Linked DNA regions of Homo sapiens: region 2 is linked to region 1. A link means that fine-mapping ties the variant in region 1 to the expression of a gene that starts in the linked region. Tissue or cell type: whole blood. Region 1 holds a variant in brackets; the other region holds the start of a gene. All regions are shown on one strand. Distances are from middle to middle.

The links. PIP is the estimated chance that this variant, and not a neighbour inherited with it, causes the effect.
Region 2: ZMYND19 starts here. The variant in region 1 is fine-mapped to the expression of ZMYND19 in whole blood (TOPMed, PIP above 0.99).

The regions. Positions count from the first base shown.
Region 1 is chr9:137,555,386-137,558,278 of GRCh38, reverse strand. DPH7 (diphthamide biosynthesis 7) reads left to right here. Exons shown (of 9, transcript NM_138778.5): 9 at 2,631-2,893. Among named protein-coding and RNA genes, the nearest start is that of MRPL41, 5.0 kb to the right of the region's middle. The variant T/C (reference allele first, on the strand shown) is at 1,687.
Region 2 is chr9:137,589,211-137,592,103 of GRCh38, reverse strand. It overlaps ZMYND19 (zinc finger MYND-type containing 19), which reads left to right and starts at 1,592. Exons shown (of 6, transcript NM_138462.3): 1 at 1,592-1,891. The coding sequence starts at 1,841. It overlaps LOC124902318 (a long non-coding RNA gene), which reads left to right. Exons shown (of 3, transcript XR_007061885.1): 3 at 996-1,065. RefSeq lists silencers at 1,047-1,116, 1,307-1,696, 1,977-2,086, 2,137-2,186 and an enhancer at 2,457-2,506.

The DNA.
Region 1 (2,893 bases):
GGATTACAGGCTTGAGCCACTGCATCCAGCCTTCAGTTCTTAAAGTTGAAGAGGTGAACTAAGACAGGTCTGAGAGTTCAACATTCCAGGCCAGTTTTGTCAGGTACTCTGTATAGGCCTTTTTTTCTTTTTCTTTCTTTTTTGAGACGGAGTCTTGCTCTGTCTCCCAGGCTGGAATACAATGGCACAATCTCAGCTCACTGCAACTCCCACCTTCCGGGTTCAAGCAACTCTCCTGCTGCAGCCTCCGGAGTAGCTGGGATTACAGGTGTGTGCCACCACGCCTGGCTAATTTTTGTATTTTTTAGTAGAGACGAGGTTTTACCATGTTGGTCAGGCTGGTCTTGAACTCCTGACCTCAGGTGATCAACCCGCCTCGGCCTCCCAAAGTGTTAGGATTACAGGCGTGAGCCGCTGTGCTCGGCTGGCCTTTTTCATAACTTTATTTATGTATTTTTTTGAGACAGAGTCTTGCTCTGTCGCCCAGGCTGGAGTGCAGTGGGGTGATCTCAGCTTACTGCAACCTCCACCTCACAGGTTCAGGGGATTCTCCTGCCTCAGGCTCCTGTGTAGCTGGGACTACAGGCATGCGCCATCATGCCTGGCTAATTTTTGTGCTTTTAGTAGAGATGGGGTTTCACCATGTTTCCCAGGCTGCTCTCAAACTCCTGCCCTCATGTGATCCACCTGCCTCGGCCTCCCAAAGTGCTGGAATTACAGGCGTGAGCCACTGCACCCAGCCTGTATCTTTAATTTAAACAATTTTTTTTTTTTGAGACAGAGTCTTGCTCTTTCACCCAGGCTGGAGTGCAGTGGCACGATCTTGGCTCATGCAACCTCCACCTCCCACGTTCAAGCAATTATGCTGCCTCAGCCTCCCGAGTAGCTGGTACTACAGGTGCATGCCACCACACCCAGCTAGTTTTTGTATTTTTAATAGACACGGGGTTTCACCATGTTGACCAGGATGGTCTCGATCTCTTGACCTTGTGATCCACCCGCCTTGGCTTCCCAAAGTGCTGGGATTACAGGTGTGAGCCACCGCGCCCGGCCTAATTTTAAAACAATTTGTATTGTCTGGGTGCGGTGGCTGACACTCGCAGTCACAGCACTCTGGGAAGGGTGGGCGGATTGCTTGAGCCGGGAGTTCAAGACTAGCCTGGACAACATAGTGAGACTCCGTGGCCACAAAAAATAGAAAAAACTAGGGGGCATGATGGTCGCAGCTACTCAGGAGGTGAGGCAGGAAGACAGAGCCCAGGTCAGTGCACTCCAGCCTATGCGACAGAGTGAGGTCCTGTCTTGAAAATAAAAAGAGGGAGGAAACGTTGGCCTGTGGCTAATCAGAAAGGGCCTCCCATTCTTGGGGTCGCAACAGTGTCTTCCGTCCACTCATTCGCTGTCTTTTTCCCAGGCTGTGGCTCTCTGAGGGCTTAGACTCTGCCTTATTACCTTTTCCTAAGCTGTAGAAGAGGTCCTGCTGGCCCGAGTGGACGTGTTGAGCGATTGCTGGATGAAAGACTAGCGGAGGTCCTGCCTGCCCTGTGACGCTACCTCCCAAGGGACAGTAACGGCCTCCCCAGGGGCTTCCTCCCGAGGGTCGCCCCACACATGCTGCTCGAGGGCCCCTGTGGCTGTCTCTGAACATTCAGCATCTCACTCCTCCTCGGAGCCACCTCTGCCCAG[T/C]TGAAGCCCTGGGCCCAGGGTTGGGCCTCCCCGGCCCAGGCCCATACAACCTCGGCACGTTTTGTAATCCAGTGCGGTCCTGTTCTGCCCTCAGCCCTTCTTCCATCAGCACTCATTCTGGTTCTGATTCCGGTCACTGCTGGCATCAATCCCTGTACTTCAGAGGTAGCGATGGCAGCCCTTTCAGAGCCCAAGTGGCCACCCAGCCTTGCAGCCCCTGGCTCACCTTCCACTTGCTCTCTGCAACTGCCCCTGCCAGCCCTGGCCTTGCCTCCTGGACTCCAGATCGCCTCGGGTTTGGCCACGCCTCGTCATTCCCTCTGTTGCTGTGTGCTCTGGGAGGCAGTTGTGGCCTCTTTCCAGTTGCCGTAGCAACTTCTATAAAGAAACTGCTCACTTAACCTTGTCAGTGGCTCCTTTCCAAGCCAGAATCCAGACTCTGAAACAGGGCGTGCCGGACCCTGCATGCTTGGGACGCTCCAGCCCACTGTCACTCACTGACAGTGCCATGGCTGCCTGTTTGTGGTTCCCCGTGCGAGCCTTGGACTTTCTCACCTCTGCTGTACACATGCTGCCTGTTCCTCAGACATCCCCTTCCTTCCCAGCTGGCTAAAACTCCTTTGTTCTTTGGTTTTAAGTGTTAACTGAGGTCTTTCCCCCTCTCTGGCTTTTGCCGTATTCTTCACCATCAAGTGAGGTTCTGTAGCCCCGCTTGATGCTTCTCTTGGAGGCACACAGGCGTGTGCACTGCAAGATGACGGTCTGTTTCTTCTCCAACATATGCCCAGGTCTTGCTGGTTCCTTTGCATGACACAACGGCTCCTCAGGAAACACTTGCTGACCTGTGAGGGGCTGTTCTTGGAGTCTCCCTGTCAGGTGTGACAGGTTGGGGAGAGGCTCTGGGTGATGTTGTGTTTCCTGGGTTCTCCCATCTCTCACTCCAGAGGAGAGGCAGGAGGCGACGGTCCTGACATCTCACACATTGCCCGACTCGCTGGTGTATGGAGCCGACTGGTCCTGGCTGCTCTTCCGTTCTCTGCAGCGGGCCCCCTCGTGGTCCTTTCCTAGCAACCTAGGAACCAAGACGGCAGACCTGAAGGGTGCAAGCGAGTTGCCAACACCCTGTCATGAATGCAGAGAGGATAACGATGGGGAGGGCCATGCCAGACCCCAGAGTGGAATGAAGCCACTCACAGAGGGCATGAGG
Region 2 (2,893 bases), 34 kb before region 1:
GTCTCGCTCTGTCGCCCAACCTGGAGTGCAGTGGCACGATCTCGGCTCACTGCAAGCTCTGCCTCCCGGGTTCAAGCCATTCTCTTGCCTCAGCCTCCCAAGTAGCTGGGACTACAGGCACCCGCCACCACGCCCGGCTTTTTTTTTTGTATTTTTAGTAGAGGTGGGGTTTCACCGTGTTAGCCAGGATGGTCTCCAGCTCCTGACCTCGTGATCTGCCCGCCTCGGCCTCCCAAAGTGCTAGGATTACAGGCATGAGCCACCGCGCGCGGTCGGACAGGCATGTTTTGAGCAAGGCCCAGCCTGAACCCCAATGTGTGTCTCAGGCAGGCCAGGACTCATCAGCCCCTTCAGTCCTCTAGGGTGTCTGGGGTACTGGCAAGTACCAGGGGACCCAGAGATGGAACGTCTGGGCTCACTCATGTACACCCTTTGCAGGCTGGGGCACGGTGGCTCATGCCTGTAATCCCAGCACTTTGGGAGGCCGAGGTGGGCCGATCACCTCAGGTTGGGAGTTCGAGACCATCCTGGCCAATATGGAAAAACCTCACTTCTACTAAAAATACAAAAATTAGCCGGACATGGTGGCGCGTGCCTGTAGTCCCAGCTACTCGGGAGGCTGAGGCAGGAGAGTCGCTTGAACCCGAGAGGCAGAGGCTGCAGTGAGCCGAGATCGTGCCACTGCACTCTAGCCTGGGTGACAGAGCAAAACTCTGACTCAAAAAAAAAAAAAAAAAAAGCAAGAAAAGAAAACGGAACCCAGCAAGCCAGAAAGGAGCCTGTGCAGCTCCTCAGGTGCAGGAGTCGCCCTTGAGGCAGGGTGAGGCCTCCTCACGGGCGACTGGACACCGGCGGAGCAGGACGCAGGACCTAGCCCCGTTCGCTCCAGGCTGCAGGGGAGCCACGCTGCCCACCACGGCGTACCCAGTCCCTCCCTGAGCGGGTCTCGGCTTTCCCGCGGAGCCTAATGGGCCTCACTGGAGTTCCGTTTCCAGACGCCTTGGACCAGGCTGCTCTGGAGGTCAGCCGCCCCCGAGGCTGAAGAGCCGGCGGCTCGGAGAAGGCTGCGCGGGAGGCCGCGCCCTCCGGGTCGCGTGGGCCGGGCGTCCGCTGTCTCTCCAGAAACACCCGCGTCCCGCGGCAACGGCCTCTTCCTAGCCCGCCTCGCCCGCTCCCCGCCCGCCCAGAGGGCCCCGCACGAGCTCCGTCCACCTCCTCCTTCCGCGCTCGGGGCCAGGACGGCGGCGGGAAACAGCTTACGGAGGCTACCGCAAGGGAGGCGAAAAGCAGCCAGCTCGCAGAGCTCCACGGACCCGGCGCGAGTCCCCAGCCACACTCCGCACTGCCCCTCTAGGCGCGGCGCCGCTGCCCGCACAAAGCTTCCCGCGAAACTGACGTCGGCGCGCGCAGGCACCGCCCCCGGCCTCGCCCCTCCCCCGCGCTCGCCCCGCTCCCCAGAGCGCCGGCGCACTCGCCCTCCTCCTATTGGTTGTTGCGGGGCGGCGCGCGCCGGTCGGCGCCGTGCGCGCCTAGCCATTGGCCGAGCGGCGGCGGGCCGGGGGGTGTGTCCGGGGCTGCGCCCCGCCCCTCCGCTCCGCTCGCTGTGGTGCGCGCGGTGGCGGTGGCGGCGGCGGCGGCGGCGCGTGGCAGGTCCGGCGGGCGCGAGGCGGCGGCGGAGGCCCGAGCCCGGCCCAGCCTCGTCCCGCCCGGAGCCCGCCTGGCTGCTACCCCGACCCCGGCTCCGGTCCCGTCCTGTCCCGGCGCGCCGCGGCCTCGCCCCGGCCCCCGCTCGGCGCCTCCCGAGGGAGCGGCGCTGCCGGCCGAGAGCGCAGGCCCGGCCATGACCGACTTCAAATTGGGTATCGTGCGGCTCGGCCGGGTGGCCGGGAAGGTGAGCGGCGCGGAGCCCGCGACCCGGCCCGTCTCGCCCGTCCAGGCCTCCGCGCGGGGCCGGGGGCGGTTGTGCGGGCGGCGGCCGGGGCGGGGGCGCGGAGCCCGGGATGGGCCCCAGCGGGGCGGGGGACGCTGCGCGGGCCCGGCTGCTGGCCCCGCGCGGGTGCAGCTTCCTCTCGCAGGCCGGCGGGCACGCACCCCTCGGCTCTGGGGTGCACCTGGCCACCCTCGGCCCTGCCCTGCCGGAGGTGGAGGCCACGGCCCTGTCCCGAGCCGGGTGCGGAGATGCGTGGCTCGAGCCCGAGCCGCGTTCTCCCGGAGCCCTCCCAGTGGTGTCGGCGATCCGGGGCCTAGCGCGGCGTCCGGGCTGCCAGTGCGGCCACACGGTTTAAACACAGCGCCCTTTCCGAGGCAGCGCCACTTCCACACCTCTCGCCGAGGCGGGTCTGGTGTGGGCTCTTCTGTGCCTCCCAGTTCTCAGCAGGGCTTCAGGCTCGTTTTAACGCTGCCAGGGGTTGGCCACGTTAGGCTGAGCCTCAGACTCGGAGCAGAGAGGAAGAAGCCTGGGCCCTGATGCTGCAGACTCAGGGCCTTCCTCGACTTCTCTTCTTACTTGGCCCCCACGCTCCACGTTTGAGGCTGGGGATTCCATGGCACCTGTGGGCATTGAGGCTTGGCGGTTTCTCGGAGCCACCTGTGCAGCTGCACCAGCCAGGGTCCTTACCCGGATGGGAGCCCTGTTCCCGTCACCAGCGGCTGCGGCTTTTGGTGGGAGAGAGGAGCCGAGGCAGTGTCAGGCGGCGTCAGGTAAAACAGGTTCAGATCCCAGAAGAAAAACTGCCAAGAGGGAGACTGGCCCGTTCTGGGACCTGTTCCTGTTTCCTGCCCCTGCTGCAAGAGCATAGGCAGGGCCTGCTGGGGAGGAGGCTTTTTTCCACCAGGGAAGGGTGGGCTCTCCAGTCAGGTCGGAGACCAGAGACCCCTTCTAACTCCACCCATG